7 separate regions of the Homo sapiens genome follow, and regions 1, 2, 3, 4, 6 and 7 are each linked to region 5. The links come from fine-mapping of genetic effects on gene expression. A gene starts in region 5. Each other region holds a variant in brackets. All regions are shown on one strand. Distances are from middle to middle. Region 1 overlaps TBC1D1 (TBC1 domain family member 1). Region 2 overlaps TBC1D1 (TBC1 domain family member 1). Region 3 overlaps PGM2 (phosphoglucomutase 2). Region 4 overlaps TBC1D1 (TBC1 domain family member 1). Region 5 holds the start of TBC1D1 (TBC1 domain family member 1). Region 6 overlaps TBC1D1 (TBC1 domain family member 1). Region 7 overlaps PGM2 (phosphoglucomutase 2).

What was found. PIP is the estimated chance that this variant, and not a neighbour inherited with it, causes the effect. A credible set is the group of variants that fine-mapping cannot tell apart.
Region 1: its variant is the best candidate, but not a certain one, in a credible set for the expression of TBC1D1 in whole blood (TOPMed, PIP 0.74).
Region 2: its variant is the best candidate, but not a certain one, in a credible set for the expression of TBC1D1 in whole blood (INTERVAL, PIP 0.52).
Region 3: its variant is the best candidate, but not a certain one, in a credible set for the expression of TBC1D1 in prefrontal cortex (ROSMAP, PIP 0.80).
Region 4: its variant is the best candidate, but not a certain one, in a credible set for the expression of TBC1D1 in thyroid (GTEx, PIP 0.78).
Region 6: its variant is the best candidate, but not a certain one, in a credible set for the expression of TBC1D1 in whole blood (TOPMed, PIP 0.64).
Region 7: its variant is the best candidate, but not a certain one, in a credible set for the expression of TBC1D1 in whole blood (INTERVAL, PIP 0.89).

The regions. Positions count from the first base shown.
Region 1 is chr4:37,997,316-38,001,382 of GRCh38, forward strand. All of the region lies in intron 2 of TBC1D1 (TBC1 domain family member 1), which reads left to right. Among named protein-coding and RNA genes, the nearest start is that of PTTG2, 39 kb to the left of the region's middle. RefSeq lists a silencer at 3,726-3,904. The variant C/T (reference allele first, on the strand shown) is at 2,201.
Region 2 is chr4:38,121,327-38,125,393 of GRCh38, forward strand. It overlaps TBC1D1 (TBC1 domain family member 1), which reads left to right. Exons shown (of 22, transcript NM_001396959.1): 20 at 3,636-3,805. Among named protein-coding and RNA genes, the nearest start is that of PTTG2, 160 kb to the left of the region's middle. The variant T/TA (reference allele first, on the strand shown) is at 1,663.
Region 3 is chr4:37,834,887-37,838,953 of GRCh38, forward strand. PGM2 (phosphoglucomutase 2) reads left to right here. Exons shown (of 14, transcript NM_018290.4): 4 at 2,643-2,727. Among named protein-coding and RNA genes, the nearest start is that of PGM2, 10 kb to the left of the region's middle. The variant C/T (reference allele first, on the strand shown) is at 1,627.
Region 4 is chr4:37,989,312-37,993,378 of GRCh38, forward strand. All of the region lies in intron 2 of TBC1D1 (TBC1 domain family member 1), which reads left to right. Among named protein-coding and RNA genes, the nearest start is that of PTTG2, 31 kb to the left of the region's middle. RefSeq lists an enhancer at 3,710-3,879. The variant CCTT/C (reference allele first, on the strand shown) is at 1,952.
Region 5 is chr4:37,888,891-37,892,957 of GRCh38, forward strand. TBC1D1 (TBC1 domain family member 1) reads left to right here and starts at 2,194. Exons shown (of 22, transcript NM_001396959.1): 1 at 2,194-2,458. RefSeq lists silencers at 1,713-1,902, 2,223-2,722, 3,752-3,801 and enhancers at 3,502-3,631, 4,062-4,067.
Region 6 is chr4:37,981,265-37,985,331 of GRCh38, forward strand. All of the region lies in intron 2 of TBC1D1 (TBC1 domain family member 1), which reads left to right. Among named protein-coding and RNA genes, the nearest start is that of PTTG2, 23 kb to the left of the region's middle. RefSeq lists an enhancer at 918-1,017. The variant G/A (reference allele first, on the strand shown) is at 2,203.
Region 7 is chr4:37,846,885-37,850,951 of GRCh38, forward strand. It overlaps PGM2 (phosphoglucomutase 2), which reads left to right. Exons shown (of 14, transcript NM_018290.4): 9 at 47-227; 10 at 318-411; 11 at 1,638-1,767; 12 at 3,300-3,489. Among named protein-coding and RNA genes, the nearest start is that of PGM2, 22 kb to the left of the region's middle. The variant TG/T (reference allele first, on the strand shown) is at 1,807.

The DNA of each region.
Region 1 (4,067 bases), 110 kb after region 5:
GTTTCTGGGGTTTATTTGGAAGTTTGTTTTTGTACTGTATTGTGCTTCCTGACTTAAAGGCTTTTGTGTGTTATGTCGTGAAGCATTTGGGGGCACTTAGAACTGTATGCCGTTTCACTTGTACATTAAAAGAGTTTATCCTAAGATGAAGATTTTTTTCTTCTTTCCAAATGATTTTGCCCCTAGAAGTTTTTACCTAGTAGCAGTAGATGGTAACTTTGAAAAGACTAAAGTTTAAGAAAAATGTACTTTTAAAAAAATTAAAAATAACCTTTTTTATGATTACAAAAATACATATATATGAAAAATAACATACTGATAAGCCCAAATACATATTCCTACCACCCAGAGACCACCACACGTAGTCCCTTCCAGATCTGTTTTATTAATAAGCACTATTGAAAATTCTGTCTCTTTTGCTGGAAATAAGTAGAAGAAATAACAGCTGTTCATATACATTTACTTTTTTTTTTTTTAAAAGAGAATTTTTTGCCAGAATGCCAGAGTAGACTGAGGGTGGATGGGCGAGGGGATTATTCTCTGAGGTGCAGCACACCCTGGTTTCACTGTCTGCACAGTTCCCACTTTTTGTTCAGGGATAAGATGTCTTTGAGAAGAGAAAACCCATGTGAGTAAATATTGAGTTGTAATCTGTATTCGGATTTCTGGATTTTTTTTGGTCACAGTGGTTCTGCCATCTAGCCACTGAACCCTCCCAACCTTTCCCCGTCCTCAGCCCTCATCTGTCACGTTCAGTTACCACTTCTTGCCAGCTTTACCTTCTAGATAGTTCTTGACTTCATCCTCTCCTCTCCATTTGTATTGCCACTGCCCTAGGTGAGATCGTCACTTCTCTCTCCTCAGTTGCTTGTCTCTTCCTTCATCAGTGATGTATTCACTCTGGGTGTGAGGGGCAGCGCCAGGCACTGGGTTACAAGACCCCTGTCTCCAGCGACTGTCTTCTTGAGGACGAAGGCAGGTGAATGAGCCATTGCCACTTCATCCTTCTGCCTGTCATCCTTCCTCTGCTGTTATGTCCATCAAGCCCATTCTCTCCCCAGCAGCCCTGGTGATCCGTTGGAAATGCAAACCTGGCCAAGTCCCCACCTCGCAGTCCTCAGCTGTCTCAGTCTCAGCTGTTTGCTGGCAGCTGGGTCGGGCTGTCCTGGGCCTCCTCCACACCTCCCTCCTCGTCTGCCTCCCCTGACCAACCGGGCCTCCTTGCTCTTAGGTGGTTTTCTCTGTCCCTCCCCTCCTGACCTCCCCTCTTTGCACGTGGTCAGTCTCCTTGCCTCTGTTGCCTTGTTTTCTAAATCATGTTACCTGTCTGTCCCCACTCTTCAGCCCAGCGCACAGCACAGTTTCTGACTTGATAGTCTGCCTTCTGTAAAACGGGAATGAGGGTGTCTTCTTCAGAGTGTTGGTGTGAGGATTAAATGAGATGTAATCCACTGAAAGCATGGCCTCTGGCACACAGTGGGCCTGATAAGTGGTATTGATGCCTGAGATATTGTATTAACTTAAATGACCAGGTTGAAGAGAAGGTGTCAGAAATTTACGTTCCTCCATGTGTATTTGATTATATAAAATACTGTTGGTCACACTTTCCCTACGTCATATTAGGTAAAGTTAGAAAGTGAAGGCTTTTCCACTGGGCACGGTGGCTCTCGCCTGTAATCCCAGCACTTTGGGAAGCCAAAGCAGGTGGATCACTTGGGAACTCAGGAGTTCAAGACCAGCCTGGCCAACACGGTGAACCCCTGTTTCCACTAAAAATACAAAAATTAGTCGGGTGTGGTGGTGGGCGCCTGTAATCCCAGCTACTCTGGAGGCTGAAGCAGGAGAATCGCTTGAACCCGGAGGCAGACGTTAGTTACAGTGAGCTGAGATCAAGCCACTGCACTCCAGCCTGGGTGAGTGAGACTCCGTCTCAAAACAAACAAAAACAGAAGAAAAAAAGAAAGTGGAAGGGTTTTATGTTTCTTTCATGTTTAACCTACATGTTGTAGGTAAAGTTTACCTACAACACTTTGGTGTATTTTCAAGTAAATATATTTAATCGAAGTGAATTACTGTTACATTATGAATTTTACACTTTTAGAGAAACAGAAACTGCCTCACACATTAAAGTGTGTGTGTTAAGCAAATACTCTGATGTAGGCCCGCAAAGTACACAGAAACGAATCAAACAGCATCCTGC[C/T]CCCAGCGCGTGGTGTAGGGGAAGGGCTCAGGGCTATGACAGGTGTTACAGCAGAAGACCAGGTGCCCTCAGGACCTGGGAGAGCAGGCCTGTGGGGGGAGGGAGGGGAGGAGACATTTGGGTTGGATCTGGAAGAACCTGCAGACACTAGTGGAGGAGAGTCAGTGGAAGAACATTCTAGAGGAAAGGCTTGCCCACTTGCCTGCAGTGGTTGTCAGATGTGAGCTGCAACCTAATTAACAGTTTATTGAAATGAGATATCAAAGGTATTTATTGGGTATGCTTTTCTTGTTTTTCCATTGGCAGTGATAATACCAAGTTGACAGTTGAAAATGCTTTTCCATCTGTTTCTGTATTGGACTGAGTTGTTGTATTCCAAGGACTAGCTAGGCAATAAATCACATCAGACTAAAATTGAGTACTTGTAACATTTGAAAAGATTATAATGTGCTGGTATTGATGAAGAATTTATACTGTGTAGAAATTAATTCCATTATTCTAACTAATGGACACTTGAGTTTTGCCCCATTAGAGTTTGCTCTTCATGTTGATTTTAATTTCTTTGATGACTATAGCGTCTGGCGAGGCTTTCTCATTTTCAAGTGGATTTGTTTGCATTGGATGGTGGGGCTGGCTTTATTGCATTATTCATATATGCAATACATATGCACCATGGTCCCAAGACATGACTCGTGGTGGTGGTGATTGTATTTTTGAGATGTAGCTGATACCTCCCATCCTCTGGACTTCTTTGGTTCACATCTTTATTTTCACTAACCAGTAACTGAAAATCTAATATTTTCTTTGATTTTGAATGTAGTCAGCAAACCCAGTAGCATTACAGATGGAGTATCCCTTATCCGAAATACTTAGGACCAGCAAGTGTTGTAGATTTAGGGCTTTGGAATATTTGCATTGTACTCACCAGTTGAGCATCCCAAATCTGAAAATCCAAAATGCTCTGATGAGCATTTCCTTTGAGTGTCATGTCGGTGCTCAAAAGTTTCCAATTTTGGAGCATTTAGATTTTGGATTTTTGGGCTAGGGATCCTCAGCCTGTAGCAGTTCCTGTGACTATAACATCAATAAAATCACAGTACCATGATCTGTTTCTACACTGAACACTTCTGACATCAGATGTGTCAGAGTTTTCCCCACACCAGCAACCAGTTCTCTGATTCTCTGGTCACCAACTGGGTCTCCAGTGATCAGTTAAATTCTGACACTAACAACCTGAAGTTAGCACAGACCCCACAAGTTAAGGGCTCAGTCTCACAAGACTGCCCCAAGATACCCACTGACCTGCTATAAATCAAGTTCCCACCACCTCCTCCTCAGGGTCAGTCATTTGCTAGAATGGCCCACAGAACTTAGAACACTCTTTACTTACATTTACTGGTTTATTATAAAGAATACCACTCAAGGCCGGGTGCGGTGGCTCACGCCTGTAATCCCAGCACTTTGGGAGGCTGAGGCGAGCGGATCACCAGGTCAGGAGATCGAGACCATCCTGGGTAACACGGTGAAACTCCGTCTCTACTAAAAATACAAAAAGTTAGCCGGGCATGGTGGCGGGCACCTGTAGTCCCAGCTAATCGGGAGGCTGAGGCAGGAGAACGGCGTGAACCTGGGAGTCAGAGCTTGCAGTGAGCCAAGATTGCGCCACTGGACTCCAGCCTGAGCAACAGAGTAAGACTCCGTCTCAAAAAAAGAAAGAAAGAAAGAAAGAATACCACTCAAGAAGAGCCAAATGGAAGAGATACGTAAGGCAAGGTATGGAAGGGGTTTTGGGGTGTTTAGAGCTTCCATGCCTCTTTGGGCCTGCCACCTAGCAACACCTCGATAAGTTCATCAACCCAGGAGCTCC
Region 2 (4,067 bases), 230 kb after region 5:
ATGAAGTTTAGTTTCAAATAGAGTTCCAATACACAGTAACGCAATAAGAGGGTTGCTGAAATGTCCTCAAAGAAAAGCAGTTCCTTTGTGTTGTTCCCAGCGAATACAGTGCAAAGTAATAGAGTCAGCTGAATTTAAGATTCCTATTTCCTGCCGGATAAAACGTCTTGCCTGTTTCTAGGTGGCTTGAAAAAGGAGAGGAGAGAAGGAAGAGGCAGGAGAAAAGTCCCACTGAAAGGACGTGGGCTACAGTGTAGTGAGCTAGGCTACTGCCTCACTGCGCTGGGCGGCTCCAACAGTTCACTGTCTCCTAGGGAGGTTTTCAAATGCAGGACATTTGCTCACTTTTCCAAGGAGAGTTATTGTTTTTTTGTTTTGTTTTGTTTTGTTTTGTTTTAAAAAATTCCAGAATGTAAATGTATAAGATACCGGAAGACAGGCAAAATAAAAATAATTGGTTTGGGGCAGTGGGTTTATAGGTAACATTTTTCTTTACTATTGTTTTAAAATTAGATGTGATTTAAAAAAATTTCCAAAGCCAAAAAACGGTACAAATGCTTTAAAGGATGAAGATGTTGTCCCCAAGTGTCATCAGACAAATTTAGGAGGCCCTTCCTCCCAAGCAAAGCTTCCTGCAGTCCTTCCTTCAACTCTGAATTCAAGCACATTCCTGCATTGTGCACCCAAATGATCTCCCGATTTAAGACCCCCTGTGTCTCACAGAAGCTTCTGGGGCTGAACTTTCTCCGGCCTTGGAGGGTTGGACGCTTTGAATGGGAGGAGTGGTGGTGAGTGGAGCATCTCTGGCAGCAGGCATTTGGGAGTCTCTGGCAGGAATCAATCAGCGTAGTCTCCAAAGGTGGCCTTTCTCTGACACTAACTAGCCCTTGCAGGGGTCATACCCATAACCTGCATCTCATTAACATCATCTCCTTACCAGTGCACTGACCTAGTGAGAAAAGGAACAATAAGCATTCAGCGACTCCTGCGGTGCTCCAGGGGAAGTTAGAATTGCTTGGCTGGGGCAGAGGCCCCTGGTGATCTGGACCTGCGTGCCCCCATTTGCCCACCTTCTGCCCTGCACAACCAGTGCCCCTGCCTTGCCAGCCAGACTGTTTTTCAGGCTCCTGCACACCTCCCTGTATTGACACCCTATTTTCCTTTTATTCAGAGTATTAATCCTGAGGTCTGACCTAGGAAATTTTCATTGGTTCTTCAAGCAGTCACCTTTCTGTGGGCCTTTTCTTTCCTCTTTGTTCTCGTAACACCCTGGGCATAACTCTACCGAACCAGAACTCCTTGGTGTCTCTGCAGCGTGTTCTTTGTGTTTTGCTCATGGCTTAATCTCCAGAGCCTAATACAGTGCCTGATGTGTATTAGATGCTCAATAGATGCTCATTAAGTTAAAGTAGAAGACACCTCTCAGCAGAGTTCTCTTAAGGTGTTGTGAATAGCATTGGGAAAGAACATTTATTTTTTAATTACATTAAATACAAACAGATATAATAAAATAAATCATATGCCCAGTGCTATGTCTTAATTTTTTAACATATCAATAAAGAGACTTTAAAACACATAACACCACCCTCTCCCCTCCAAATTTCCTTTCCGGGAAAGTCTCCTTTTGGAATCATAGGAAGCACTTACTAAGTTGATTTATTG[T/TA]AAAAAAACCAAGATCCTAATAAATCTCAGAAGATCTCCTGTTAACCTAAAGAGACCACTGATGTGGATTCTGTATTTGGTTGTGCTGACAAAAGTTTCCCAGTAATTGTTTATTTTAATTGGCGTAGATGTGGTACTGTACCTAATTTAAGGCACTTGTCCCTCTGAGAGTAGAGACCAAGCTATAGAAAATCACTGGTGTTGTAGGGAAAGCCTTTCCCCAGGATCCCTGCAAAAAAGGTCTTGATTTTTATTCTGAAAGATGCCCTCATTTTTTGTTCAGCTATAAAAGTTCATATATTGAAAGGAGGTCTAGGAAGTCTCACTGTGTAAACCACTGAAACTTCAAATTTACTTTAGAGTTTTGTTTCTGGAAATGTCATTTCTGTTTAAAAATACATCTTTGTTATAGTATTATTTTAGATCTTTTTATTTTCTGTAGTGGGGAATTATACAGGTAGACTACATTTTATAAACCAGATATTTCAGAGGAATATTCTTCAATTGGCCTGCCTTGGTGTATGTAACACTTACCCTGAAAAGCTCTGATTTCAAAGACACAGTTAGTTCTCTAGTATATCTTCCCAGCCTCAACAACCAGACTTAAGAAGGAAGTGAAGGATTCATCTTCCCCACTTTCCTGCGGCCACCCTGAGCCATCAGTAGTTGTGATGTTTGTGGAAAGAGTGTGGACCCTGAGCTGGGTGGGAGAAGCAGGCTGATCTCAGCGCTGGCATGGCTTAGGGCTGCACCCATCTCAGCTCACATGGTTAATTAAGGGTTTTGTGGTGGTTACAGAGGATCTCGAGGGCTATCCCAGCCAGCGGGCTCCTGGGTCTGTCATCTCTGCCTGTGCTTTGTTCAGAAACTACAGGGATTCAGTTTCCCATTTGCACAGCAGCACCCAGTCTTTGCTTTTCTGTTTCTTCGTGGCTTTTAAATGTTATCATATTAACCATCTAGAGAGGCACCCTGCAAGGTTATTCCTCTCACCTGCTTTTGCTTTCCTTGATTTGATGAAATTTACAGCTTCTTTCTCTCTTCCATTATCTTTCAGCCAAAAGAAACAGAGAAAAGAAATACTGACACTTGCCTCCAATTATATTTCTACTCTGATTTTTAAAATTGTTTTTTTCTTATATTATTATTCTAGTTATTAGGTAACCTGCCTCAGTTTAGTCAACCAATAATTAGTTATCGTGGCTCTGCTTTAACCCCAGGACATCGACTCTTTTTTTCCCCAGCAGCTTCAACTCTATGAGGAAGGTGAGACAGGGCTAGGGTTGCTGCTCGGCCGCTTGCCTTGGCCGGTGCCCTCCCTCTTATTCTGCAGTCTGTATAGAAGTTGCATCCATTTGCCAGCCACTCTAAGAACAAAATATGGCCAGAACTAGGAAGTAACCTTGACAGAGTTCTTGAACTCCTCAGAGGGAAAAATGTTCTTTATTCCATTATCATGTTAAAAATCAGTAAACTTGTATTTAACAAAGTACTTCTGCAGTTGTACAGCTGTTGTACAGTTTTTAAAGATCTTTGAATTCTATTCCTTGTTTCAAAACAGAGGAAACAGAGACACTTTTTCACTTACTCTATCTTAATTTCTGATGCTTTATCTATAAAAATCTTTTAGTGTGACCCATAAAAACATGTTTTAGTATCTCCTTTAAAACCCAGGAGCATTCCTGGAAAAATAGACTAATAAAACCTTTTTCCCTTTCCCAGTTTAACTTTTGAAGCATGTTTGAATTTTATTTTCAGAGTAAAACATAATTTTTAATGTTTATGTACTTTTATTTGCAATACTGTCTTGACAACACTGTCTGAGATATCAGGCTCTTAAAAATGAAATAAAGTTTGCAATGTGGGGCTATGTCTCCCACACTCCTGCTCTGTGATGTGTGGAAAAGGCAATGGAATGGTATTGCGTGAGAAACTGGTCTGGTTTAACTTTCTGCATTTCTGTGTTTTCTCAGATATGATTTTTCTTCAGGGAACAGAGGTCATATTTAAAGTGGCTTTAAGTCTGTTGGGAAGCCATAAGCCCTTGATTCTGCAGCATGAAAACCTAGAAACCATAGTTGACTTTATAAAAAGCACGCTACCCAACCTTGGCTTGGTACAGATGGAAAAGACCATCAATCAGGTATGAGTCAGTCCAAACCTTGCAAATGCTTAAGCCATCCTAGATATGTAGAAACTTAAATCTCTCTTGAGCAGGAACTGTTTCCTACCACTTTGTGTTCTGAACGGCATTCTGCATGATGCCTGGCATGGAGGAGGCATATCACAAACGTGTGGAATGATCGTGAGTGTGTGTGTTGTGAGCGTCATGGTGAAATGCCACATGGAAACATGGTGGCAATGTTTAGCTGTAGAAACCAGCACAGGTTATTAGTAGTTTCTTA
Region 3 (4,067 bases), 54 kb before region 5:
ACATTAGGTTAAGGAAATAAAATTATTTAGACAATTTAGAATGTAATACCTAGCTAAAAGAAAGAAATTTCTTAAACTGGCAATATTATTTTTCCCTCTCATTTGCCTTTTTATACATAATTTTTACCCTGCTATTCATAAACCTCATGACCCCCTTCCCTCTCTTGAACGCCCACGTCAAGCTGCATTTCTGAAACATTCTCAAACCAATGGGACTCTCTTATGTAGCTGAAGGCATATGATGCTGATGGTGACAATGATAATAGTAATAGCAGCAATCATTTGAGTGCTGATTATGAACCAGACACTTATGTATTTACTCATTCTATCCTCACAGCAACGTGTAAGGTATGTACTTTTATCTCTTTACCCTGAGATTATAATGTGAAAGGAGGAGTCGCAATTTAAGCCTAAGGACACTAGTACCAGGGGTCAGCAAACTTTTTCTCTAAAGGGCAAATAGTGGATATCATACACATTGCATATCACATGATTCCCATCACCACTACTCACCTCTCCCATGAAGCAGAGAAACATCCATCGACAATGCATAAACACAGGAGCATGGCAGTGTTCCAGTAAAACTTTACTTACAAAATGGGCTGTAGTTACCAACCCCTGCCCGTAACCATGTTACATAACCCTCTTTTTTACTTGAACACTTCCTCTGTTATGATGAATTTTTAATCATTCTAGAGTATCAGTATTAGTAGTAGCTTAGAATTACACATATTGAATATTAATGAAAAGTCTTATTAGCTTTACAGAGCTGGATGAGTTTATAGAGTCCTATCTTTGCCCATCAGGAGCTTCCAATCTAAGACAGAAGCACTCGTGGGGACAAACGTGTGGCCGTGAGGAAGGGTGCATAGCCGGGGAAAATCACCCGGTGGCATCAGCCCCAGGTTCAACTCAGGAGGGCATAAGATTTTTAGTCTTTAGCTTTGCAGCTCAAAAATGTGCTTTTTGTCAATAAAGCAAGAGAAAAGTTATAGCTCTGGGGGATAGATGCACATGAACTACATTCACAAGAGAATGATGTGGTATAAACCAGCATATCAGCTTGTCATTTACAGTTAGTGGATGTACAATCAGAACTAAATCGTGACCGTGTTCCTCTGCCGCCCCAGGGCAAGTCAGATCCTTTGCTCAGAGCATGCAAAGTGCACGTATGTGGCTAAGTCTGTCTGCTGAGCTGCGTAAATTTCTTCATTTTGGGCTGACTGCCCTGCTTCTGGTTGATACAACCTTCAGAGATATGTTAACATTATCAATTAAGGTACAGATTTTTTTGCCCTGGCCTTGGAGCCGTATCATTTCCTTAAAGTGAGTGATGTTACTGATTTAAGCTTATGGTTCAAGTCTCAGAGTTTGATGGGATGGGATGGAGTGGAACTCAAGGCTACTCTCTATCACCTGTAACGCGTGAGACATTTAGAGATCATAATGTAAGTGTTTAACCAACACATGGTAAAATATTCATGATGAGTGAATGGAATCTTCGTAAGGAGTTGGAAACTATTGCAGTTTCTGAATTTCGCCCGAGGAGATGTTTATCCTTTAATCTTCCAATTTTAAATATCTGGTGGGGAACGTAAGCAGTAACTGTTAAGTATATGCAGAGAA[C/T]GCATTGCATTTTTTTGTGCACATTTGTAACAGAGAGAGAGAGTGGCGATCTGCTCTTTGTGCCCCAGCCAGCCTTCAGAATAGTGTCGGCGAAGCTAGTGCCCAAGAAGTATTTGGGGAGAGTAAGAATGATCTGATTGTTTAACTCACAGGGGTGGTATAATGTTGTTCATTCTAAGTAAATCGCTCATTTATTTGTGGTAACGTATTTTACACCAGCTTGAAGGAAGATTTGATGCCATTTTCTGCGTCTTACCCTAAGCAAGTTTCTGTGGAAGTTGAGAAAAATGTCAAAGAATTAAGTTTTCTTTCAAAGGCTGATTGGAACCAAGATGTATATATGTGTATGGGTGTGTGTGTGTGTGTGTGTATACACACATGCGTACTCCAGGATGTCTTTATATTTCAAATAAAGCAATCTCTAATCAAATTCCAGTCTGTGTGGTGTACGCTGGATTGTGATAGGCTTAGGCTGGGATTTTCAGCCTCTGCACTGTTGACATGTGACTGCACAGTGGCTGGATGATCTTTTGTTGTGGTTGTAGGGTACATTGTAAGGTGTTCAGCAGCACCCCTGACCTCTCCCTACTAGCTGCCAGTAGCAACTCTCTCCATTTCCCAGCATGACAAGCAAAAATGTTTCGAGACATTTCAGATGCCTGGAAGGAGAAGGTGCAGACTTGCCCTGGCTGAGAACCACTGAGATAGACAGAGAGCTGAAAGGCCAGGAAGCAGCCTGGCTCTGCCACTAAGTGGCTGTTAGAACCGGGGAAAGGGGCCTGACCTTTCTTGGCTTTAGTGCCATTTCTATAAAACAAAAGAGTGAAATGAGATGACTCCTGAGAGTCCTCCAGCTTTACTGTCCCATGCCAGGGTAAAGATTATAATAAATGCTGTCCTTGATCTGGATGCTGCATTCACCCTAAAGAACATTCAGCATTCATTTCCTTCTTTCCATCACTCACAGTCCTGATCACTCAACTCTCCTTTTCTTCCCTGTCACTCTGCATTCTCAGGTTTGCCCGACTTGCTGCAACCACATTTATCAGTCAGGGGATTCCTGTGTACCTCTTTTCTGATATAACGCCAACCCCCTTTGTGGTAAGTAGCCATTTCCTTTCATAATTTCCTGTCACATGATCAGGGATGGGACTTGGCTGAATTTTATAGTCTTTAGGGCTATTGGGATTGGACTGTTTGAATGACAGAGGAGTTCCTTGGCATGTATGAGACATTTCCTTCTCTCCTGGAATGTTTCTCCCACATCTTAGTAATATTTCTCTGGTATTCAACTTTTGATTCATTGGAATTGGTTTTTTTAAATTGCAGTTTTCCTTTTCTTTGCATTCTAAGGGTATTCGAGAGAGTCAGCAAATTTTTTTTTTTGAGACAGAGTCTCGCTCTGTTGCCCAGGCTGGAGTGCAATGGTACGATCTTGGCTCACTGCAACCTCCGTGTCCCGGGTTCAAGCAATTCTACTACCTCAGCCTCCCAAGTAGCTGGTATTACAGGTGCCTGCCATCACTCCCAGCTAATTTTTGCATTTTTAGTAGCGACGAGGTTTCACCACGTTGGCCACGCTAGTCTCGAACTCCTGGCCTCAGGTGATCCACCCAGCTTGGCCTCCGGAAGTGCTGGGATTACAGGCATGAGCCACCACGCCCGGCCTTTTCTCTGTTTTTAAATTTGGTTTGTAGTTCTTTTTCTCAGCTATCACAATTAGGAAACTTCTTGTGTCGAAATCTGAATTCACCTCAAACCCTGTCTTGTCATGAATATTTTTGACAAGCTGGCACACCCCTGTTTTATACAAATGTTTTATTCTAAATACTATTCATGGCTAGTACAGAGAGCATGCTCGGCATATTTGAGTAAGACTTTCATCAAATCCTTCATGTAGCACAATCTAAAGAAGAAGACAGTAGGGACTATGACAGTTGTTGCTTTGACATAGACAAAACTTTTAAGAGCTGGGCCAGATGCTGAGAATATGTTTTGGAAAATGTGATTTGGATGCAGTTAGTCACATCTAGTAGAAATGAGACTGTATTGCTACAGAAGGAGGTTCCAATTCATTTTGTGTTTGCCGGCTCTAGTGCACTGACAGGTAGATGCAGCACCCCTAGGCTGTAAATAACCTGCTAGACACTCTATTCACATCTAAATGTAGTTCAGGTTTCATTGTTTGATGGAAAAATTGTCATGTATTCAAGCATCCTAATTACCTTCTGTACTAAGTGTTAATAGCTATTAATTTTATGTCAGACATGAATTGAACCAGTGTATCATGATCCTCTGCCCACACTGAGGAGTCGTCCTCCCCTTTTCTTTGGCCCAGAACACCTGAGAGATGTGACATAACTTCCAGGGTGTTCAATGACTGCAGTGATTCTTGGTGAAAGGGTGGAGGGGACGGACAATTTAAATCTCAGGTTGCCTGT
Region 4 (4,067 bases), 100 kb after region 5:
AATTGCCACTCAGAAAATATTTGAATCCACCTATGACTTGCAACCTCCCCTCCACCTTCAAGTTGTCCCACCTTTCCAGACCAAACCAATGTACACCTTACATATATTGATTGATGTCTTATGTCTCCCTAAAATGTATAAAGCAAGCTATAGCCCCGACCACCTTGAGCACGTGTTCTCAGGACCTCCTGGGGTTGTGTCATGGGTCGTGGTCCTCACATCTGGCTCAGAATAAATCTCTTTAAATGTTTTACGGAGATTGATTCTTTTTGCTGACACTAATATTTAGATTCTTTCTGTTGTTCTAGCACATTCTGCATGAATTAAACATAAACCCTGTTCCCTAGTACAGAACAAGAGCAAACTGCTTTCTTTAGGCCACAAGTAACTTAGATCAGTTAAGGGGAAAATGGGGGAGAGAGGAGGACATTGGCTTCTGCCACCAGCAGCCTGTGTGACCTTGCCCAAGGTCACAACTCTGTGGGGTTAGTTCCCCTTCCCTGAAATAGGTGTAGGGAGGGACTCCTTGACAGTTTCTGGTTTTTTTCGTCTCTCAGAGTGCAATGAAGAATTTCTTCATGGCTAAGGCTGTTAGACTCCAGAAAATAGTTTGCCAACCAAAGACACAGAGTTTCCAATTTTGGAATACTTTAAAAATAGGAAGGAAGTTTATTTGTTTAGCAGAATTTATAATTGTAGGACTGCCCAAGGCAGAGAATTAGCCAAGTGGTATTTTGCGGAAGTTCTTTTTAAAGGGTGGGCCCAAAGGAAACCAGTCATTAGGTGGAAATAAACTGTCAGATTTTTGAGACGTTATTTGCTTAGGGACATTTACACTGGTCTATTGTGACAGTCTCTATTGTGTTAGGCTTTTAAAAGAAATATGTAAGTTTCCAAGTTTAAAATGTTAGAGCAAGTGTCCAGTCCACGGCCTGTGGGCTACATACAGGCCAGGATGGTTTTGAATGTGGCCCAAAAAAGATTCATCAACTTTCTTAAAACATTGAGTTTTTTTTTTTTAAGCTAATCAACTATCATTAGTGTTAATGTATTTTATGTGTGGGCCAAGACAATTCTTCCAGTGTGGCCCAGGGAAGCCAAAAGATTGGATACCCCTGTATTAGAACTTGTAAAATTTGACTTCAGAAACACAACCAAAAGCCCGCTTATGAGTAAGGAGTTTGTGGCCCCTTGTGTACTGATTATTAATCAATTAATTGTATAATAAGCATGAAATATTGCTAGTACATCTAAGGCCAAAGCCTTCTTACGGTTCCAGAAAAAGCTGTATTCCTGAATTTCCAGGTGAAGGGAAGGGATTCTCCTTCCATTTCCAGAAATATGTGAATATAATACATAGGGATTTTTATCACACTAGTGTTTCAGTAAAAGCAGCCCTTCAAGTCTGTGCCATCCAGTTTTGGTGTAACTGAAAGAACATCGTACCAAAGTTTGATTTTTGTCAATTCTCTAGTGTGTTAATCAGCTGAGAATGTGGTCTCTGGATATTTTTCCCCAAGGAAAGAGCTGGATGTACTAGACCACCAGACCACACAACTCTGTATTTGTTTTGCAATAACTACACTATTTGGGGGAGTAGTGTGGTGTTTCCAGACGTTCTTGGTCAAGAAATCTGGCCGCTTCAAGCTCAGTGTTGATCACAATCTATTTCTTTTGCCTCTACTCTGTGGCAGGCACTTGAGACACAACTGCCAAGATGAGAGAGACCCAGCTGCTGACCTGGGGCGGGGGTGGGTGGGGGGAAGGTGGTGAAGGCAGTCACAGAGTCAGCCTGCCAGAAAGCAGGTGGGGAACTGTAAACCTCTGAGTAGCCCCTTGGTATACAGAGGTAATAATTTCCCAAATGTAGTAAATCCCACTTTACAACCTCACGGTTAATTTTGATCAGGGATAAGTAGAACTGACTATACACTGTTAACTTAGATATTGT[CCTT/C]CTCAAAAACATCATTTTTATTCTGGGTGCCAGAGATTTGGCTTGGGTGTGGGTGTTAAGAACAGTCCACAGTGTCCTGGAGTACCTCTCCGCTGATCTGGGGGCTCTTTAAACCTCTCTAACAAGTTTTTGTGCTAATCCTGACTGAGTAGATGGAGGCAGTGGAGCCCAGCTGGCCTGTCACTATGGGGCAGAGGGTGACTCTACCCTCAAGCCCTGCATGAAGACCCCAGGGTGGGCACCACAGCCCTTTACAGTCACTTAGCACCTGCTGCTGAACACGAGCATGCAGACCTGGTAAGGCTTGTGAGTTTCAGAGAATTCCTGCAAGTCCCTGGAAATGTGGGCACTGGCAGCTCTTCTCTCTCTTTTTTTTTTTTAAATTTAGTGGGCTTAGAGGTTTTAGCCTAATAAGGAAATTTTACACTGGACGATTTTATCCCAAATAAAAGCAAATCATAGGGACCCAGTGTTGCCTAAAAAACCAGTCCTTACTGGGGAGGTCTAGTTGTGTCTAGCCTGGCTCTGTGACCAGATGCCAGCCATTCCAGCCTCCTGTGGCTGCATTTCATCCCGAAAGTGAATAAGGTGAGTGAGTGATTCAAAGGTCCCATCCAGGGGGTGACAAAGAATATTCCAGGTGGAAGAAACTGCATGAGCAAAGGTATGGAGGTGGAAACCCAAATGAACAGAGGCTTAGGAGGTGTGTTCGAAACATGTTTGGTACAAACGGAACTTACAGAGAAAGAAGCCAGGTGAAATAAGGCAGGAAGAGTTGAGTGGAGCCCCATTGGTGGGAGACCCTGAGGGTTAGCAGGACTGTGTTTGTTCTGGTAGGGATTGCAGAGGAGCCCTAGAAGGTTTGTGAGCAGGAGGCTGACCCCATCAGACCTGTGTTTCCAGAAGATCAGGCTGTGCTGGATAGCAGGATGGATGTAGGGAGATGCCAGAGGCGGCAGAGGAGAGGTCTTGCTGGGGTCTGGCTGAAGCAAGTGTAGGCCCGGACCAGCGCTTGAGGTTTTGGGCTCGTGGTGAGAGAATATACACCCAAAGAGCTGAGGGAAAGAAGGAGTAAGGAGAAAGAAGAGCAGAAGCCACTTACCAGGTTTTGAGCCCAGTTACCTAGAAGGCATTTGGGAAACAAGGAAGTAGGAAGAAAGGCCTATTTTAAGGAAAAGAGAATGAGCTTGATGTGGATATTTTAAGGTCAAGGACTAGAAGTCTGGTGTTTTTTTTTTTTTTTTTTTGAGACGGAGTCTCGCTCTATCACCCAGGCTGGAGTGCAGTGGCGCGATCTTGGCTCACTGCAAGCTCCGCCTCCCGGGTTCACGCCATTCTCCTGCCTCAGCCTCCCGAGTAGCTGGGACTACAGGTGCCTGTCACCACGCCCGGCTAGTTTTTTGTATTTTTAGTAGAGATGGGGTTTCACCGTGTTAGCCAGATGGTCTTGATCTCCTGACCTCGTGATCTGCCCGCCTCGGCCTCCCAAAGTGCTGGGATTACAGGTGTGAGCCACCATGCCTGGCCGATTCTTTTTTTTTTTTTTTTCTTTTTTTGGAGACAGAGTCTCACTCTGTCCCCTAGGCTGGAGTGCAGTGGCGCGATCTCAGCTCACTGCAACCTCCGCCTCCTGGGTTCAAGTGATTCTCCTGCCTTGGCCTCCCGAGTAGCCAGGATTACAGGCGTGTGTCATCATGCCCAGCTAATTTTGTATTTTTAGTAGAGATGGGGTTTCACCATGTTAGCCAGGACGGTCTCGAACTCCTGACCTCAGGTGATCCGCCTGCCTCAGCCTCCCAAAATGTTGGGATTACAGGCGTGAGCCACCGCGCCCGGCCTGGTGATTCTTTAAATAGGTGATTGGAAATGTTAGCGAAGTTTAGGAAAGAATTCAGAGCTGGAAATGTAGAGAAAGAAACCATCTTTCTTAGTTTTTGGGGAGTAGATGCCATCCTGAGAGAGAGGGAGAGACAGAGAGAGAGAATCAGAACACTATGAAGAATCTTTTTTAAGATGTCTGTGAAATGAAAGATTTTACTAAATACATTCTAAAGGAGAGAATTACATTAGTAAGATTTCATTACCCTGCGCCTCCCCTTAAGGCTGATCTTTA
Region 5 (4,067 bases):
TCTACAACAGAGTTGAAGGTAAAAACATGAAATAATTTGGGATATGACCCAAGTGATAACAATATGGTTTAACTGGTTTACCTGGTCTTGTAACCTAAAGAATAATTTCCATAACCCAGTTAACATTCTACTCATTACAGTATTTATGACTGTATATTTCTTAAAAAAGAGTTGAGGCTATGCACACAAATAACTACTCAATGACAAAGAATGAGCTGAGGGCTACACAGTGGCCAGAGAGCAAGTATATTATAAAGGGCTTTGGATCTTGGAGATTCCAGCACCCACTAACCCTGTAGGCACTAACCTCTTACTTTTCTCCTTAGTCAAATGGATTTAACAATCTTTGCCCTGCAGAGTTTTTGAGCAAATTAGCAACAATATATAAGGACAGTATCTAGCACAATACCCCAAATCGACTAACTCCTCCGTAAAGAATAGCTACCACTATTGTGAGAGTTTTAAGTCAAGCTGTGAATAAAACTCTTGGGTCCACTTAAAAATACCTCCCCTGGATGTAAGCATCCAGGGAAATCAGGGAATGCCATAAGACAGCCCTAATCTAAAAGCCTACAAGAAGCTCAGTGGGCTTCAAGGAAGACACTGCTCTTGGTACGATGAGGAAACCTGGCCCTCTATTTGCCTCCTGGGCCACAGTAATATTGATAATAGCTGCTGCTTTTAGTTGAGGACCATGTACGTCTGTGTCACTGCACTGGCCACTTTACTTACACTTTCCTGCTTTGTCCTCACAAAGATCCTGTAAGGTGTGTATTGGTCCCATTTAGCAGGTAAGACAATGAAGACCAGAGGTCCAGCACCTTGCCTAAACCACACCTGCTGGGATTTGGATTCAAGTCCAACCGTACAGCTCAAACGCTCAGCCACTTCCCTAAAGTCCACCCCCAGCTACATTAAGTAAAAAAATCCAGAAAGATGCCACCTGGGGGTCTGGAACTGCCTCCTCCGAGCACCCGGCTCTCCCCTCCCTGCGGACTCTTCTCTGGAGAGGATGTGATGCTTCTTACTTTTCTCAGATCCCTCTCCCCACCCTGCGAGTGACGTTGCGCCTCTGTGCCTGGTGGGATAGGGATCTGGGAGCTTCGCCTGTTTTTTGCACACTGCCATCCCCTAGTCTTAGGGAGCGAGCTCTGTCCCGCTTTTCACATCTCCGCGTCTTTCCTTGCACTCTACATCACCGCTGGGAATGTCCCCAGACCTGATCGGGGCATGCACACTGGGGTGTGCGTGTGCGTGTGGTGTGTGTTCCTGCGCGTGTGCCGGGCTCGCGGGGCAGGAAAAAGCGCCTAATCCAGGCTCTGCGTCACTCCCGCAATTGGTTAGAAATGGAGTTTCCTGGTGTTTAATCCCGGGAGGGCACTTCGCCTTCGTTGTTTCCCAGAGTCCCTGATTTTCCTGCCTCGCATGCCAGCGCCCCATAGGGCATCCGTGCCTCAGTTCACCTCTTGCCATCCTCCAAGGACGGGGAGAAGGGGTAAGGCGGGGGAGAGCAAGGTGGCTTGGTCGCCCCCGGCCCCCGCCCCCCATGTTGTGTGCAGTTTCCACCACGTCTGTTTCGGAGGGAGAAGAGGAGGGTGCAGATGAGGCGAGGCGCCTTCGGGAGCGCGGAGAGCGGGCAGGCAGTGCCACCTGCTGAGAGCCACTCAGGCCGAGCAAGCGGCGGGCAGTGCCACCTGCTATAAATAGGCCGCCAAGGACAGGGTGTGCGACTGTACATCCCGCCACGAGGGCCTGCATCACGCGCGGGGCCCCGCGCCCCCGGCTCCCCAGGGAAACGCTGTGCCCAGATCCTGCGCAGGGGTCTGGATGGGGCGGCGGCCCGAGTACTTCCCCCCTATTCCCCCCACAGACACTGGCTGAGGATGGCCCGCGGGCTTGGGGGCGGGGGGTGGCAAGGAGGGGAGGGAGGCCGCGGCGGACCCGCAGTGCAGCAGCTGTTGCTCGCGTGTGACTCGCCCGTCCGGGCCGTGCTGCCCAGGCACAGTCACACGGCGCAGTGGGGAGGAGGAGGACACCGAGTCCCCCTCCCAGCTCCCCGGGGACCGAGTGGGGAGATCCCGGCTCCTGTCTTCCCCTCGCCTCCAGCGCGCTCGCCCAGGCTGGGAGGAGGAAACCAGAGCCGCGCGCAGACACCTCCTCCTTCTCCTCCTCTTCTTCCTCCTCCTCCTCCTCCTCCTCTTCGGCTGCTGCTCCTGGTGCCGCCACCGTCCGCCGGTGCCTGTTGCTGCCGCCGCCGCGGGACCTGCTGTGTCCTCAGCTGGGTGGAGAAGAGGCGGGCGCCGAGCCGAGGGGAGCCCCCTCCCCGTCCCCCCGCGGCGGGAAGAGCGCAGCCAGCCGGGTGCGATGGACTCCCCGCCCGCCCAGGCCGTCCCCAGGATGCCCCCAAGCACCTGCGCGTCCCGGCCCGGCCCCGGGCTCTGAGCGCGCCGCGGCACAGGTAAGGCGCTTCCTGGGGCTTCGTCCTGGCCACCCTGCTGGCTCCTCTCGGGGCGTCGCGGCCGCCCCCTCCCGCAGCACGCCCCTGCCCCGCCTGGCCGCGGAGGGGAAGGCATCTGGCCGCCCACGGACGCGAGGCCAGGGTCTCTCGGGGGAGGAAGTTCATTGCCATCTCGTTGCCCCCCTTACCCCCCCACCCCCGCCGCCCTTGGACGAAAGCGAAACCTTAATGTTGCTAGCGACCCGAGAGCTCCGCCGGCTTCTCCCCCAACCCCCGCCAGCTCACTGGTCCGCGCATCTCTCCCCTCCCCCCTCCCGCCAATTATCCTAGCGTGTTTGCAAGGCGACCAGATTGGAAAGAGTGTGGTCAGAGTGACCCCAAGCCACGCTTTAAAAGTTCAGGGTACTTTGCAGTAGTAACTTTGGCAGCTCCACCAGTGCGCGCAACATTTCTTTCTATGGGTACATCCTGTACCAGTCATTTTGAAACCCTGCTTCATTGTTTCTAGCCGCTTCCTGATGGCTCTGTGATTATGAGACCCCCCTCAAACTTCACCAGGCATTAAGGTTTTGTTTTTGCTTTTTTTTCAGAGAGGTATCATTTCGTTTGAAATCCACCTAGATGTGGCTTTTCCTGTTTTGATTTTACTTAACATAGCTTATTCTCTGGAAGTTGCTTTAAAAAGAAATTGAAAGTGATGGTTGTTCCTTCCACCAAACAGTTTAATTTTCAGGGTGCCTCATATTAATGGATATGTTTTCCCTTCATAGATTTCTCATTGTTTCCCTTATGATGGGATGATTTCATTTATTAATAAAATCAGACTTTGAAAGAGCATTTAAAAATGACCTGGTTTAAATAGGTCACACCCAAGAAACTCAGCTATCTGTACAAGTTCAAACTTCTAAACTTTTTCAATGAGCTAGGGGTGGTGGCACCCACCTGTAGTCCCAGCTACTTGGGAGGCTGAGGCAGGAGGATCACTTGAGCCCAGGAGTTCGAGGCCATAGTGAGCTATGACTGTGCCACCTCACTGGAGCCTGGGTGACAAAGTGAGATCCCATCTCTTAAAAAAAAAGAGTTTAGGGGACATTTTCTGAAGTGAACACAAGTAGAGCATTCTAACACTATTGAGTGCAAGGAGACCTGGAAGGGACTAAGTGGTTCAAAGCAGGAAATAAAATCATCAGGTGATAATTAAAATAATTTCTTTCCTGTGGATTTGTCCAGCCATTTGCAAACCAGGAGAATAGGAAAAAAAATCACTAGTGTAGTTATAAATTATTACATTACGTTTTCAAAGGAAAATTTTGCAAATGCGTCTCCTTGTCATAGTCTATTGTTATCTACCCCACTGAGAGTGCTGGGGCTTCCCCTTTTCACCACGACAGCATTTCTGGTTGGGTGGCAGTCATGCAGTGTTGACCTGGTGTCCCATAAGGCACAGTTTGTCAAAACACTAGTGGGTATTAGGAGGAAACGTGCAACTCTGAAGCAACAGAGCTTGCCCCTTCTTCCTCATTATCCAGCTGGTGATAATCCCTGTCCCCCACTTCCCTAGAAGACAGCTTTGACCAGGAAGGCTGCAATGACAATGAGATGTACCCCT
Region 6 (4,067 bases), 92 kb after region 5:
AGTAACTGATTGCTAATTAATATTTTATGTAAAACCAGGTTTTCCGTATTTGGGCATTACTTTTAAAACATTGGTTTATCTAGCCACCATTCATTCAACAGGTCATTTAACAAATGTGTTCAGTGCAGATATTTATGGATAACCTACCTATAATAGGTACTATTTGAGGAGCTGGGGATTTAGCAACCGACAAGCAGACCCCTGTTTTCATGGAATTCTAGATGGGAGAGATAGCAAAGCAGCAAGCAAATAGGTGAACAAGATTATTTCAGATGGTGATCAGTGCGAGGAAGAGAAGTAAGTGGCTCCGGGCTGGGGTGGTGCAGGGGTGGCATTCCATCTGACTGGTGAGAGGGCAGGAAACATGCTCCAGGCAGGCCTCAGGGAGAAGGGAGGTATGGCTGGAATATATCCAGCTGGGTGCACAGCACTGAGCTTTGAGTGGGGAGGGGTAAGGTGGGCCAGGCTGTTTATGGCTCCATAGGCTTAGAATGGGGTTTGGATTTGCTTTTAAGTGTAGTCAGAAGCCGTTAAAGATGTGGAAAAGAGGAGTGATGTCAGCTGATGTATATTTCGGATGGAAGCAGAGGGACCACTTAGGAGGTGGTTTTGGTTCGGATAGGAGGTGATAGTGGTAGCTTGGACCTCAGTAATAAGAAAGGAATACCAGTGGATAGTCATTGTCTGTATTTTGAAATGATGTGACCCAGTGGCTTTGCTATCTTGTTTGTCTGTGTTTGGTGCAAATAACCGAGTAACTAATTGCTATTTATATGTTGAGTACGAGTACAACTTGCCCTTCCATCATCTCTTTCTTCTAAGCACAGCTTCCATGCAAAGTTCTGTCCTGACTCTGGGCTTATTTATTTACCTTTGAGGTTTCCTGCAGACTAGACCAGCCCACCTTGGGTGCCGGTAGGCGGTAGGAGTTGCCCTTCTGTTTACCAGCACACAGCACAGCAGCCTTCCTATGTAAGGTGTGAATCTGACTATAGCAAATATTTAGGCAACAATTTTCTTGTGTTGCTTGAAGTCAGTCCAGTGTTGGTTTGTCCTTGATGTGTGTCCTAGGTTAATGTGATGTATTGTTTTAAAATTTTTTTTTCTTCTGTAGACTCATACTACATTTTATTAGTGGATGCTTGAGTTTAATAAGGAGGGGAGAACTCCTTGTCATAGTCAAACCATTCCTTGAATTTGAAAAATGTGCTGCCTCGGCTAAGCAAAGCTGGTATAACCCTGACCAGGATTTCAGCAGAGTTCCTGTGGAGCACTTTTTATCTGGTAGTGGTGGCAGCTGTGTTTTGGGCTTTGGGAACTCTAGTTGCTTAGAGTGTGCCAGGAACTTGGGCGTAGGTTGGTTTTACTGAAAGAGAATGGAGGAGAGCAGAGATAGAAATCCCACCTAATCCACAAATAGAACACAGCCCAGAGCAATGCCTGATGAGAAAAAAAGATAAAGTATAATTTGTTTCCTTAGACAAATTCTTTAATCTGATTTTAACCTGTATGTGTGTCCCCTGTTCTTCTGTTTCTATCAAAACTCTCCTCATCCTTCATTCCTTTCCTGAAGCACCTCTGATTAATCATTCATTCATTGACGAATGTACTAAGCAGGGCAGAGAATAACGGGAAGGGCAGGTTGTGCCAGGCAGTTAGAGTAGCGTATGCTAAGGCCTGGAGGCCCCTTGGTGGAGCTGCACTCACAGGAGGTTGGTGGGCCTGGAGCGAGACTGCTGGGGGGAGTAGCAGAGGCGAATGAGGACCAGGATGAGCATGGCATACAGACCCCTTTGGTATTTTATTCTGGAGCAGTGAAGACCCATTAGGGGCCAAAGATGATCTTTCCCCAAACTCTTTTTTTTTTTTTTTTTTTTCAGACGGAGTCTCGCTCTGTCACCAGGCTGGAGTGCAGTGGTGCGATCTCGGCTCCCTCCACCTCCCAGGTTCAAGTGATTCTCCTGCCTCAGCTCCCGAGTAGCTGGGATTACAGGCAGGTGCCACCACACCCAGCTAATTTTTGTATTTTTAGTAGAGACGGGGTTTCACCATGTTGGCCAGGATGGTCTCGATCTCCTGACCTCGTGATCTACCTGCCTCGGCCTCCCAAAGTGCTGGGATTATAGGCGTGAGCCACTGTGTCCGCCATCCCTCCCCCAAACTCTTATAGCTGTGTATTTCATTCTGTATGATGCTTTGTAC[G/A]GTCACCACACTGTGCCCAGCTTTTTCTTCTTCCCTTTTTTCTTTAAATATACTTTATTTTTTAGAGCAGTTGTAGGTTTACAGCAAAATTGAGTGGAAGTTACAGAGATTTCCCATATAGCCCCTGTCCCCACTGAACTTCTCAAGCTTTGTGATTTTCATAGTAAACTCACAGATGTTTTGATAGAAACAGAAGAACAGGGGACACATGCACAGCATCCCCTGTTATTAATATTCCTCACCAGAATGGTGCATTTGTTACAACTGATGAATCTATATTGACATATGATTATCACACAAAGTCCATCGTTTACATTAGGGTTCACTGTTGGTGATATACATTCTACAGGTTTGGACAAATGTATAATGACGTATATCCAGCATTATAATATCATACAGAGTAGTTTCATTGCCCTACCAGTCCTCTGTGATCGATTCATCCCTCCCTTCCTATAAGCCTTTGGCAACCCACTAATCTTCATACTATTTATAGAGCATGTATATATAGTTCTGCCTATAGAGAATGTCATGTAGTTGGAATCATACAGTATATATGTAGCCTTTTCGGATTGGCTTCTTTCACTAAGTATATGCATTTAAGTTTCCTGTGTGCTTTTTTTTTTAAAATGGCTTGATCATTTTTTTGTGCTGAATCATATTAATTGCCTGGATGTACCACAGTTTATCCATTCACCCACAGAAGGACATCTTGGTTGCTTCCAAGTTTTAGCAATTATGAGTAAAGCTACTATAAACATCTCTGTGTAGGTTTTTGTGTGGATATGAGTTTTCAGCTCCTTTGAGTAGATATCAAGAAGTATGATTGATAGATTGTAATGTAAGATTATGTTTGTTTTTGTGAGAAGCACTCAACTGCTTTTCAAAGTGCCTATACCATTTTGTATTGCCATCAACAATGAATGAGAATTTCTTTTGCTCCTCACAGGCATTTGATGTTGTATTCTGGAATTTGATTATTCTAATAGGTGTGTAGTGGTACCTCATAGATGTTTTAATTTATGTTTCTTTAATGACAGCTGATGTAGTCCTACTCCCTTTCTTTTGATTGACTTTTAAGGAATAGAAATAATGTTAGGCCAGGAGTGTTAGCTCACACCTGTGATCCCAGCACTTTGGGAGGCTGAGGTGGGTGGATCACTTGAGGCCAGGAGTTTGAGACCAGCCTGGCCAACATGGCAAAACCCTATCTCTAGAAAAATACAAAAATTAGCTGGGTGTGGTGGCGTGTACCTGTAATCCCAGCTACTTGGGAGGCTGAGGCACGAGAATTCCTTGAGCCTGGGAGGCAGAGGTTGTAGTGAGCCAAGATTGTGCCACTGCACTTAGCCTGGGTGACAGAGTGAGACCCTGTCTCAAAAAAAAAAAAAAGAAAATGTTAGTGCTTTTGAATTTTATTTTAGAATGCACAGTAATATTCACGAACATCTGTACAACCTATAGGAAGACCTTTATTTGGTTATATTTATGATATATATATTTTCTTGAGATGGAGTCTTGCTCTGTCACCCAGGCTGGAGTGCAGTGGCGTGATCTCGGCTCACTGCAACCTCTGCCTGCCGGGTTCAAGCAATTCTCTTGCCTCAGCCTCCCGAGTAGTTGAGACTACAGGCACGCGCCACCATGCCTGGCTAATTTTTTTGTATTTTTAGTAGAGACGGGGTTTCACCATGCTGGCCAGGATGGTCTTAAGCTCCTATCCTTGTGATCCGCCTGCCTCAGCCTCCCAAAGTGCTGGGATTACAGGCGTGAGCCACCGCGCCCAGCCTATATTTATGATATTTATGAATCTAATCTTAAGTATCTGGTTTTTCCATTTTAAAATTTCTATGATTTCTGATTTTGTT
Region 7 (4,067 bases), 42 kb before region 5:
AAGATTATGGAAATGAATGGTGGTTGTTGTTTTTTTTTTCTTTCAGTGGTGAATGGAGGGTGTTTTCAGGCAATGAGTTGGGGGCCCTCCTGGGCTGGTGGCTTTTTACATCTTGGAAAGAGAAGAACCAGGATCGCAGTGCTCTCAAAGACACGTACATGTTGTCCAGCACCGTCTCCTCCAAAATCTTGCGGGCCATTGCCTTAAAGGAAGGTTTTCATTTTGAGGTAGGGTGTTTCTGGGACTCACTCATTTTCCTTTCATCTGCTCTGTAGAAGATCTAAGGCATGTCTTTCTCTTTTGGATTATCCCTTTAGGAAACATTAACTGGCTTTAAGTGGATGGGAAACAGAGCCAAACAGCTAATAGACCAGGGGAAAACTGTTTTATTTGCATTTGAAGAAGCTATTGGTAAGAAGTGATCATGAACATTAAGGAATTGGCTGCAAGGCAAAAGGAAAAGGTTTGGATTGGGATTCAAAGATCCACAGTGAAACACGGTTTATTTTGCCTCTCCAGCACTCAGGTTGAATGTCGAACTGTCCTACTCCAAAATTGACATCTCAGATGATTTACAGCCAAAAGGAATGTCTTAAAAACAACTAAGTCATTCATGTCAGAATCCTTTGCCTGGATGACTCAAAACAGTGACATTGTATGCTTGGCTGCCGGTACATGTATTTTGGGAGTTGTGATGTTTCCTCCACTGTGGTGGTTAATATCCAGGCCTAAACACTGTGGTATTTAATGTCCCTCCTCCTCCAAAAGTGCTAATGAGGATCTATGCTACGGTCTAGCCAGAGGAAAGGAGAAGGAAGGCATGGTTTGCTGCTGTCATCAGAATGATACTCACCCAAAAGGATGACCCAGGTCCAGCCAGAATGACAGAAAAACCCTTGTCCTAAACTGTCAATATAAATGAACAGAAAGGAGAACTAGCTATAGAAATTTGAAACTCACATTGTACCAAACGCTTTTAGCTATTAATTTAGTAAAAACTATTATGCATTAGATTTATTTATATTCATTTGTATATTCTCTGCAACACTAACACATGATTTAACTAATCAAAGCATAATCGCTCAGGTTCTGCTCTTTTATTGTCAGATTTGGCAGACTTGTCTTTCCGTAGCTTTTTATTTTAAGAAAGATTTTCTTTCATTTATCAAGTATTAATTGCATGTCTATTACTCAGTGACTCTAAAAGAAATGGATGGCACTGACCTTAGCCTACAGCAGCTTAGATAGATTTAGTTAAGTAATCACACACAAGAGTAGAGGCCAGATGTCAAAATGAATAATGTAACTAACAAATACTATTGGGATTCAGAGAAGAAAGAGATATGTATTGACTAGGACAATTAGAAACAATTTCATGAGCTGGAAGGAGTTTCATGACTCTAGTGATTGAGCACCATGTGGCCAGGAGGGAAAATCTTGCAGGTTCTTCAGCAAATACTTCTTGAAGGCCTGCTATGGGCTAGGCACTGGGCTAAATTCCTAAACATAAGGTATTAATGAGAAATGTGCATACACGCAACACTGTACAACCTCTAATATGCAATAGCCAGGATTCATACTCATATGTGGTTTGACACAGTATTGTATAGATGTATGTATGACGTGTGTTTCTGCAGGATACATGTGCTGCCCTTTTGTTCTGGACAAAGATGGAGTCAGTGCCGCTGTCATAAGTGCAGAGTTGGCTAGCTTCCTAGCAACCAAGAATTTGTCTTTGTCTCAGCAACTAAAGGCCATTTATGTGGAGTAAGTTGTTATTGACTCTGTTGGATTGAAATAATATTT[TG/T]AAATGTTCTATTATATACTTATGCATGAGATACTAATATCCTTTCTAATGCTCTTATTTTGGTGATGAATTCTATTTCTTATAAAAATTAAATAAGGCTGGGCACAGTGGCTCATGCCTGTAATCCCAGCACTTTGGGAGGCTGAGGCGGGTGGATCACCTGAGGTCAGGAGTTCGAGACCAGCCTGTCCAACATGGTGAAACCCCGTCTCCACTAAACATACAAAAATTAGCTGGTTATGGTGGTGGGCACCTGTAATCCCAGCTACTCAGGAGGCTGAGGCAGGAGAATTGCTTGAACCTGGGAGGCAGAGGTTGCAGTGAGCCGAGATCGCGCCATTGCACTCCAGCCTGGGTGACAAGAGCTAAACTCTGTCTCAAAAAAAAAAAAAAAAAATTTAAAAAAACTAAAGAGATCACCTTTTCCTTTTGATATGTAACAAGTTAGTAATTACTATTCCCGATCGCATTAATTCTTAACAAATGACAACATGAAAGAATGTGATTTTAAGTGTCCAGTATCAAAAAAGATTGAATGTCTTCATAATACATCTATTCATTTTTTTGTAGCACTTACTCAACTCTGCCTTGCCAGTGTAGTGCGTAAGCATCCAAAGAGAATACAGAAATGCGTGTGACCTGGCTCTCTGTGCAAATGCAGGCGGAAGACCAGGCAGTCATTTGGTGATCCCTGGGGTAGATTGTTGGACCTCTTTTTTTTTTTTTTTTTTTTTTTTTTGAGACGGGGTCTTGCTCTGTCACCAGGCTGGAGTGCAGTGGTGTGATCTCGGCTTACTGCAACCTCTGCCTCCTGGGTTCAAGCAATTCTCCTACCTCAGCCTCCCGGGTAACTGGGATTATAGGTGTCCCCACACCTGGCTGATTTTTGTACTTTTAGTAGAGTTAGGGGTTTCACCATATTGGCCAGGCTGGTCTCAAACGCCTAACCTCAGGTGATCCACCCACCTTGGCCTCCCAAAGTGCTGGGATTACAGGCGTGAGCCACTGTGCCTGGCCTAGACCTCTGTTTTAATGGTCTTTTAAAAATTATTCCTTTGGCGTCAGTTTTGGCTGTTACATTTATTTTATTATTTATTTTATTTTATTTTATTTTTTGAGATGGAGTCTCTCGTTGCCCAGGCTAGAGTGCAATGGCACAATCTTGGCTCACTGAATCCTCCACCTCCTGGGTTCAAGCGATTCTCCTGCTGCAGCCCTCTGGAGTAGCTGGGACTACAGGTGCCTGTCACCATACCCGGCTAATTTTTGTATTTTTAGTAAAGACGAGGTTTCTCAATGTTGGCCAGGTTGGTCTCATACTCCTGACCTCAGGTGATCTGCCCGCCTCGGCCTCACAAAGTGCTGGGATTACAGGCGTGACCCACCACACCCAGCCATATTTATTTTAGAATACACTGGTTGGTACATGTTCTGTGTCCACCCTACAAAATTATTTGTTCCTCATGTGCATGAATTTGTATTTGTTTGATAGGTATGGCTACCATATTACTAAAGCTTCCTATTTTATCTGCCATGATCAAGAAACCATTAAGAAATTATTTGAAAACCTCAGAAACTACGATGGAAAAAATAATTATCCAAAAGCTTGTGGCAAATTTGAAATTTCTGCCATTAGGGACCTTACAACTGGCTATGATGATAGCCAACCTGATAAAAAAGCTGTAAGTAATGTCTTCTCTTTTCAACTAACCTCTTTTCTATTTACCTTTTAAAATAATTTGAATAAATTATTTAACCATACAATTAATTGAAGCTGATTTTAGGCACTTAGGCGTGATTATAAATAAGCTATAAAAAATATATGGAAGCCGGATGTGGTGGCTCATGCCTATAATTCCAGCACTTTGGGAGGTTGAGGTGGGCAAATCACTTGAGATCAGGAGTTCGAGACCAGCCTGGCCAACACGGCAAAACCCGGTCTCTATTAAAAAATACAAAAATTAGCTGGGCGTGGTAAGTTAAAAACCGCAGGCTAGAACTGAAAGAGACTCTACTAGGCTGGGAGCGGTGGCTCACACCTGTAATCCCAGCACTTTGGGAGGCCGAGGCAGGTGGATCACTTGAGGTCAGGAGTTCAAGACCAGCCTGGCCAACATGGTGAAACCCCATCTCTACTAAAAATACAAAAATTAGCCAGGTGTGGTGGCTCATACCTATAATCCCAGCTACTCAGGAGCGTGAAGCAGGAGAACTGCTTGAACCCAGGAGGCAGAAGTTGCAGTGAGCTGAGATTGCACCA